Homo sapiens: one gene and its partner. The protein of the gene in region 2 purifies or fractionates together with the protein of the main gene of each other region. This does not show direct contact. Each region holds a gene or a part of one and is shown on either strand. Other genes may lie near its edges.

Region 1 (3,653 bases), on a different chromosome or scaffold from region 2:
AAGAAGGTTGGTTGGTAGATATAAGTACTTGTGGTCATTCAGAGCATAAACGAATGCAGGAAGCAGAAAGCATAGGTCTTTGCAAGGCAACAGGAAGCACAGGAATTAAGGACACTGTGGAACGCAACATTCAGATTTCTCCCATCCGGATGGAGGACTGTGTTTGTGCTTCTTTTGAATCTTAGTATTATGATTTTTTGTTTCCTTTCCCCCACACTAAAAGAAAAGGTCATCTTTAGCAAACAGGCCAGCAGTCCTTGCTAGATATTCTTTTTTCTTTGAGAATGAGAAGAGTTTCTATGATCATGGAAAAGTGTTGGGATCATCTGGAAATATGCTGACCTTCAGTGTACCATGAAATGCATTTACATAATATCATATGGCAAATTTATTTAAAGCCTCTATCTTATAGGCTTAACATAAAGATCAGTTTGCTGCTCTGCCCTTTGGAAACTTTATTCCTCTAGAGAAAACATGGTTTGGGCATTTGAGAGCCTCATCACTCAGCTGTCCTTGGTGCAGAAGGGCTACTGCAGTGTGTTCCATGGCCAGAAATGGGGCTGGATGCCTGAGAACCTAGTCAAAGTTTCTGTGAAATAGAATGAGGTGAGGCTGGGTCAAGGTCAGAGAGTCTGGCTGGGTGTCCCCGAGTCCACCTCAGAAGGCAACATTTACTTCTGTGAATTTCCCCCATCCAATATCTGGCTTTTAGTATTGCTGCCTCAGAAACCTGATCTGTCTTTCCGGGCCACGTCACAGTGACCTTGTTCACCTGCATGCCAGCTTATTGATTTGCAGTGGTTGAGACACTGTGTGGCTTGGCTGGTGGGTCTTCTTCCTGCAGACCCCTGTCATAACAGCCAAATCACAAGGAGAAGATCTCCTGAAGCACATTATTCAGAGCAAAGCAGCTTAGATGCGTACCCTAGGGACTGATTACATGCTTTAGGGCCAACCTTGCCAACGGGACTACAGACCAAACCACCCCTAAACTTAATGGCTTAAAACAACAGCCATTTCTTATTTTCTCACATGTCTCTTGGTTGGCTGGGTAGTTCTGCAGTTCTGAGTTGTGCTTGCTTGATTTCAGCTGTGCTTGCTCATGTGATTTTGGTCTGCTGATGGAGTGTCTGAGGGCTGGCTGCTTTAGGATGGCCTCAGCTGGATGACTTGGCTCTGCTCCATGTGGTCACTCATCCTCTGGCAGGCTAGCCTGGCATGTTCACATGGTAGTGGCAGGAGGCTAAGAGAAAGTAAAAGCTTGTATGGCCTCTTGAGGCCTAAGCTGATAACTGGCACTCCGTCACTTTATCTTTGTCTAATGACAAAATTAAGGCACAAGATAGCCCAGAGTGGAAAGTTAGGAAAACAGACTCCACTTCTTGATAGGAGGAGCTACATAGTCACATTGCAAAATGTACAGATACAGGGAGGGGAAGAATTGAGACATTTTGCAATCAATCAATCAATCAATCTACCATAGGGACCTGAATATTTATTTATTTATTTTTGAGATGGAGTTTCACTCTTGTTGCCCAGGCTGAGTGCAGTGGTGCGATCTCAGCTCACTGCAACCTCAGCCTCCCAGGTTCAAGCGATTCTTCTGCCTCAGCCTCCTGAGTAGCTGGGACTACAGGCGTGCACCACCATGCCCGGCTAATTTTGTATTTTTAGTAGAGATGGGGTTTCTCCATGTTGGTCAGGCTGGTCTCAAACTCCTGACCTCAGATGATCTGCCCGCCTCGGCCTCCCAAAGTGCTGGGATTACAGGCGTGAGCCACCGCGCCTGACTGGGACCTGAACATTTAAAGTGCTGTTGGCTAGGTTTCCTTTTCTTCCGGACTCTGCTCGAATGGGCAGAGCCTGTACTTGCTCTTGTGACTGTCTCTTTCTGTGTTTCTGTGGTTGACCATCTAGAGATGTATGTATCTTTAGATAATCATTCATTCACTAAATAAATATTTATTGAGTGGTCTCTATGTGCCAGGCATGTTATAGGAAGTAGACCCATCTCATGAAGCATTCATTCTAGTTGAGGGAGACAAATAATATGTAAGTAAATAATGTATGTTTTATATCAGGTGATTAAGGAATGTTGAGCAGGGAAAGGAAGATGGGGGGTGCCTTGTTGTGTTGGAGTGGGAGGGTAGGGTAAAACGAAGTGTGGGTATTTTATGCAAGGTGGTCAGGGTGACATGAAGGAAGTGAAGGAGTGAGCCAGACAGTTATCTGGGGAAAGACATTTCCAGGTAGGGAGAACAGGTGCAAAGGCCCCGAGGCAACAGATAACTGGCATGTTCCAGGAACAGCAAGGTGGCTTATGTAGAAGGAACTGAACGAGACAGGGTGAGCGTGGGAGAAGAGATCAGAGAAGTAGCAGGGAGCCAGCTAATAGAAGGTCCTGTAGGGCCTTGTGTAGACTTTAGCCTTTATTTTGAGGAAAATGGGACACCACTGGAGAATTCTGAGCACAGGGTGCTATTAGCTGATTTATGTTTTCCAAGGATCCCTTGAGCTTTAGAGCTTAGTGTAGACTCTTGGAGGATAAGGGTGGAAACAGGGAGATTAGTCAGGATGGTACTGCAGTGACCCAGGTGAGAGAGGGTGGTGGTTTGGACCAGGCTGGATAGTACTTAAAATGGTGAGAAGTTGTAATCCCAGCATTTTGGGAGGCCAAGGTGGGTGGATCACTTGAGCTCAGGAGTTTGAGACCAGCCTGGACAACGTGGCAAAATCCCAACTCTACAACAAATAAAAAAATTAGCCAGGTGTGGTGGCACATGCCTGTAGCCCTAGCTACTCGGGAGTCTGAGGTGGGAGGATCACCTGAGCCTGGGGAGGTCGAGGCTGCAGTGAGTCACGATAATGCCATTGTACTCCAGCCTGGACAATGGATTGAGATCATGTCAAAAATAAATAAAAATAAAAAAAGATGGTGAGAAGTGGCTAAATTCATAAAGCAGGCAGGATGTGTGGATGAGTTAGATACTTAGAGTATGAGAAAAAGATGACATAATGAATTTTGACCTAAGCAGCTGGATGGAGTAGCACTTTAGTGAGGTGGAGAGGAAACAGTGATGGGGTTTAATTGGATATCCAATGGGAGATGTTAAGTAGTTCATTGCATATGAGAGTCTAGAGTTCAGGGAAGAGTTTCAGGAAGGAGACATAGGTTTGAGTATCATTAGCATGTTATTTATTTTTCCGTGAGCCAAGTCACTGCTGTATCACTAGTGCCCAGAATATTGTCTGGCACATTGTATATCCTCAATGGATATGTACTGAATGAGTGAATGGAACCACTTACTTACTAGAGTTGACTGCAAATCTTTGCTTTGGTGGATTTTGAAGTGTAACTCCTTGAAGTTATTTCCTTTCTTTACAAGGTCTCATGGGAGCCTTATTGTGGATCTTATGCACTAAAAAGAGGCTTTAAATGTGAAGGCTCCAATCGCTTATATCATACGGAAAGCAACGTGTGGTGACAAGAAAGAAAGAGGAACAAGTGGAAACCAAAAAATAGCTCATATTTTCAAAAAATGAGAAAAGATCCTTTAGAGGGAGGTGGCTGAAATTCAGGGGTGTGATGTTCTTGGGTTATTATTGTACTGCTCTTAATTTAAGATGAGGCAGAAGCAAGGAAGAATCTTGAA
Region 2 (3,653 bases):
TGAGCCACTGCGTCTGGCGTCCCAGAGTGCTCGGATTACAGGCGTGAGCCACTGCGCCCAGCCTCCCAAAGTGCTGGGATTACAGGCATGAGCCACTGCGTCCAGCATCCCAGAGTGCTGGGATTACAGGCGTGGCCACCACACCCTGCCTCCCAGAGTGCTGGGATTACAGCCCTGAGCCACTGCGCCTGGCCTCCTAGAGTGCTGGGATTACAGCCCTGAGCCACTGCACCCAGCCTCCCAGAGTGCTCGGATTACAGCCCTGAGCCACTGCACCCAGCCTCCCAGAGTGCTCGGATTACAGCCCTAAGCCACTGCGCCTGGCCTCCCAGAGTGCTGGGATTACAGCCCTGAGCCACCGCGCCCGGCCTCCCAGAGTGCTGGGATTACAGCCCTGAGCCACTGCACCCAGCCTCCCAGAGTGCTCGGATTACAGGCATGAGCCACCGCGCCCGGCCAGGAACTACGTTTGTTTTTTTTTTGAGATGGAGTCTCGCTCTGTCACCCAGGCTGGAGTGCAGTGGCATGCCAGGAACTACATTTCTAAAGAATGCAGTGAAATTGTTTCAAAAGGGCTCAAAGTGCAAATACTCCATCCTTCTGCGCCCCAAAGAAACTGGTTATCTCTGATTCCTGAAGCCCACATTCAGGCTTAAATATACACGTAAAAACCACAAAGACTCTTACTCAAATAGGAAATAACAGAAGTGCAATAAGAGATCTTCATTCACTTGGGAAACTACTACCCAGTGGTTCTCAGTGTTAGAGTGAATTGGCATCGTCGGGAGGGCTTGTTACAGGAGAGATGACAGGCCCACCCCCAGGAGACATTCTGATCCAATGTGTCCCAGCTGAAGCCTCAGAATGCATGTTTCTAGAGGAGTGACGGTGATGCTCATGACCCCAGGACCACATTCTGGAAACGACCACACTAGCACCAAGCCTACTAGCACAGTTGTTATATCTCTTACTTCCCGTGGTACTCGGCTTTGCCGTCACCAACCCTGGAACACAGTAAGGACACATCAAGTATTGGTTCCACAGAAGTTGCAAAGGACGGTGGCAGCCTCACCTACTGAGGCCAGGTTCTCGTAGTTTTCCAGCATCACATCTCTGTAGAGGTCTCTCTGAGATGGGTCCAGTAAAGTCCATTCCTCCTGGGTGAAGTCCACAGCCACGTCGTCAAAGGTCACCGCGTCCTAAATCATCACACATGACGGTTGGAGCCTTCCAACGTGTCCATCGGTATTCACTGAAGAATGAGGAGGCGGGGCCCTACGCCTATGGGACTGTGAGGCCTCCTACTGTCTACCCCATGGCCCAGTGGTCCCAGGAACCCTTCTCTGCCCGCACACACGCCCTGTCGCTCTCCTCCAGTCACGCGCACCCTGTCGCTCTCCTCCAGTCACGCGTGCCCTGTCGCGCTCCTCCAGTCACGCGCACCCTGTCGCTCTCCTCCAGTCACACGGCCGCAACGACACCTCTAACATGTGAGCTTCTCTCACCACGCTCACTGGGCACTCCCCTCGCCTTATGTCCCTCTCCTGAGCACACTACAAACAAGTGGTAACTCGTGATGTGGAAATAAGTTCCCAGAGAGGATACCTTCCCCTTCCTTACCATGTGTCAGAGCACTAAGCAAAGTACGAAACACGCATTTGGCACAAGGGTGAAAATAATGAGTAATGTTGTGGCTGGGCGCAGTGGTGCAAGCCTGTAATCCCAGCCCTTTGGGAGGCCAAAGCGGGTGGATCACTTGAGATCAGCAGTTCAAGACCAGCCTGGCCAACATGGCAAAACCCCGTCTCTACTAAAAATACAAAAATTAGCCAGGCATGCTGGTGGGCACTTGTAATCCCAGCTACTTGGGAGGCTGAGGCAGGAGAATTGCTTGAACCTGGGAGGCGGAGATTGCAGTGAGCCGAGATTGGGCCATTGCTCTCCAGCCTGGGCGACAAAGCGAGACTCCGTCTCAAAAAAAAAAAGTAACACTGAAATACGGGGAGGATTTTCACAGTAACACCTGACCAGCCAGGCTCTTCTCCCTGGAGGCGTTCAACTAGGGACTCGGTCCTTGAGTGAGGCTGTGCAGACAAGTCTGCTCAGACAGAAACTTGTCTATCTGCTGAATACCAGTATGTTATTTTAAGAAAAAATACAGTTTTGGCATACCTGGTAACAATTTATCAGCCAGCCAGCCACCATCCCTGCTGCCTGTGTCTGTTCTTCATGAAGGCAGACTGAGTCCCTAGAAACATGACCTCCTAAAAAACAAAGAAGGCAAGAAGGCATGAGAACCCAGAGCTGACCCTAATTCCACACTCATGGACCCGGAAGTCATTCCATCCTAGCAGGAAATTATCACGTACTCCTGCACACTCAGGAAAACGCACACACACAGATATACAGTGTCAGGGAATTCCCACATACACCTGCACACTCAGGAAAACACACACACAAAGCCATACAGTACCTCAGGAAAACACACACACACACACAGCCATACACTTCCTCAAGAAAACACACACACACACAGCCATACACTGCCTGAGGAACACACACACACACACACAGTCATACAGAGCGAGGGAATTCCCATGTACTCTTGCACACTCAGGAAAAGACACACACAGCCATACAGTGCCTCAGGAAAACACACACATACAGCCATAAACTGCCTCAGGAAAATACACACACACACAGCCATACAATGCCTCAGGAAAATATAGTCCCTCAGGAAAATACACACACACACACACACACACACACACAGCCATACAGTGCCTCAGGAAAACACACACACAGAGCCATACAGTGCCTCAGGAAAACACACACAGACACACACACAGCCATACAGTGCCAGGGTAGTCTGTTTCGCCTGGTGACACAAAATGTTTGTGAGCTATGCCGCCCATCAGGAAATGGTAACAGGCTCCTATTGCAGATATGGAACGGTACGCCTTGAGGAACGTGACTCTTCATTTGCCCGTGGTGAGAAAACTCATGAAGGAGTTTACACATCATCCCTCCCCAAAGCACACACCCTGGGGCTGACTTACAGGTCAGCATTCTCTGGCTCACTCCAGCAGCTGCAATAGGAACCCGGAGCGTGACTACTCAGGCCCCGTCCATGGGCCTGATACACACACTGTGTATCAGGACCTAGAGCAGAGGCTCTGAGAAGGAGCCCCACCAGGACTTACCGTGGGCCAGGTCAGGGGCTGCCATCCTGGGAGGCTGACGGAAGCGTCTGAATGCTCCTTTCCTGAAGCCAAGGCCACTGCAGGGCAGCTTGTGAATCTATGTGGAAGGTACAGTCTCCATTCCTCCTGACCCACGGATGGCTGGATCCCTATTTCCTAGCAATCATGATGAAGAAGCATTACTTCCCAGTTATCAAACCTCACGCATTAGCTTGTTTCTGCAGATGATATATGTGAAAGCCACTATATCCACTTTACTCTCTTGAGGACTAGTAATATCCACGTCACCTACTGAAGAGCAGTATATGGGTCAAAAGACACAACAGAAGCCTTTAATTATCAGAACAGCCATTCACAGATTTCACCCGTGTTCATACCTAAAACAGCCTGGATTCAGATAACATGAACTGGTCCACATCATCCACTTAGGAAGTGGTGAACCAGGACGGT

What was found.
Region 1: the proteins of ZNF778 (region 2) and SV2B purify together in Homo sapiens (affinity purification with mass spectrometry; one large-scale study listed by BioGRID and IntAct). This does not show direct contact.

The regions. Positions count from the first base shown.
Region 1 is NC_000015.10:91,103,140-91,106,792, forward strand, and holds part of SV2B (synaptic vesicle glycoprotein 2B), read left to right. Parts: intron 1-3,653.
Region 2 is NC_000016.10:89,220,703-89,224,355, reverse strand, and holds part of ZNF778 (zinc finger protein 778), read right to left. Parts: intron 3,360-3,653; 5' UTR 3,229-3,359; coding exon 3,204-3,228; intron 2,265-3,203; coding exon 2,173-2,264; intron 1,200-2,172; coding exon 1,073-1,199; intron 1-1,072. UniProt on the Homo sapiens protein: May be involved in transcriptional regulation.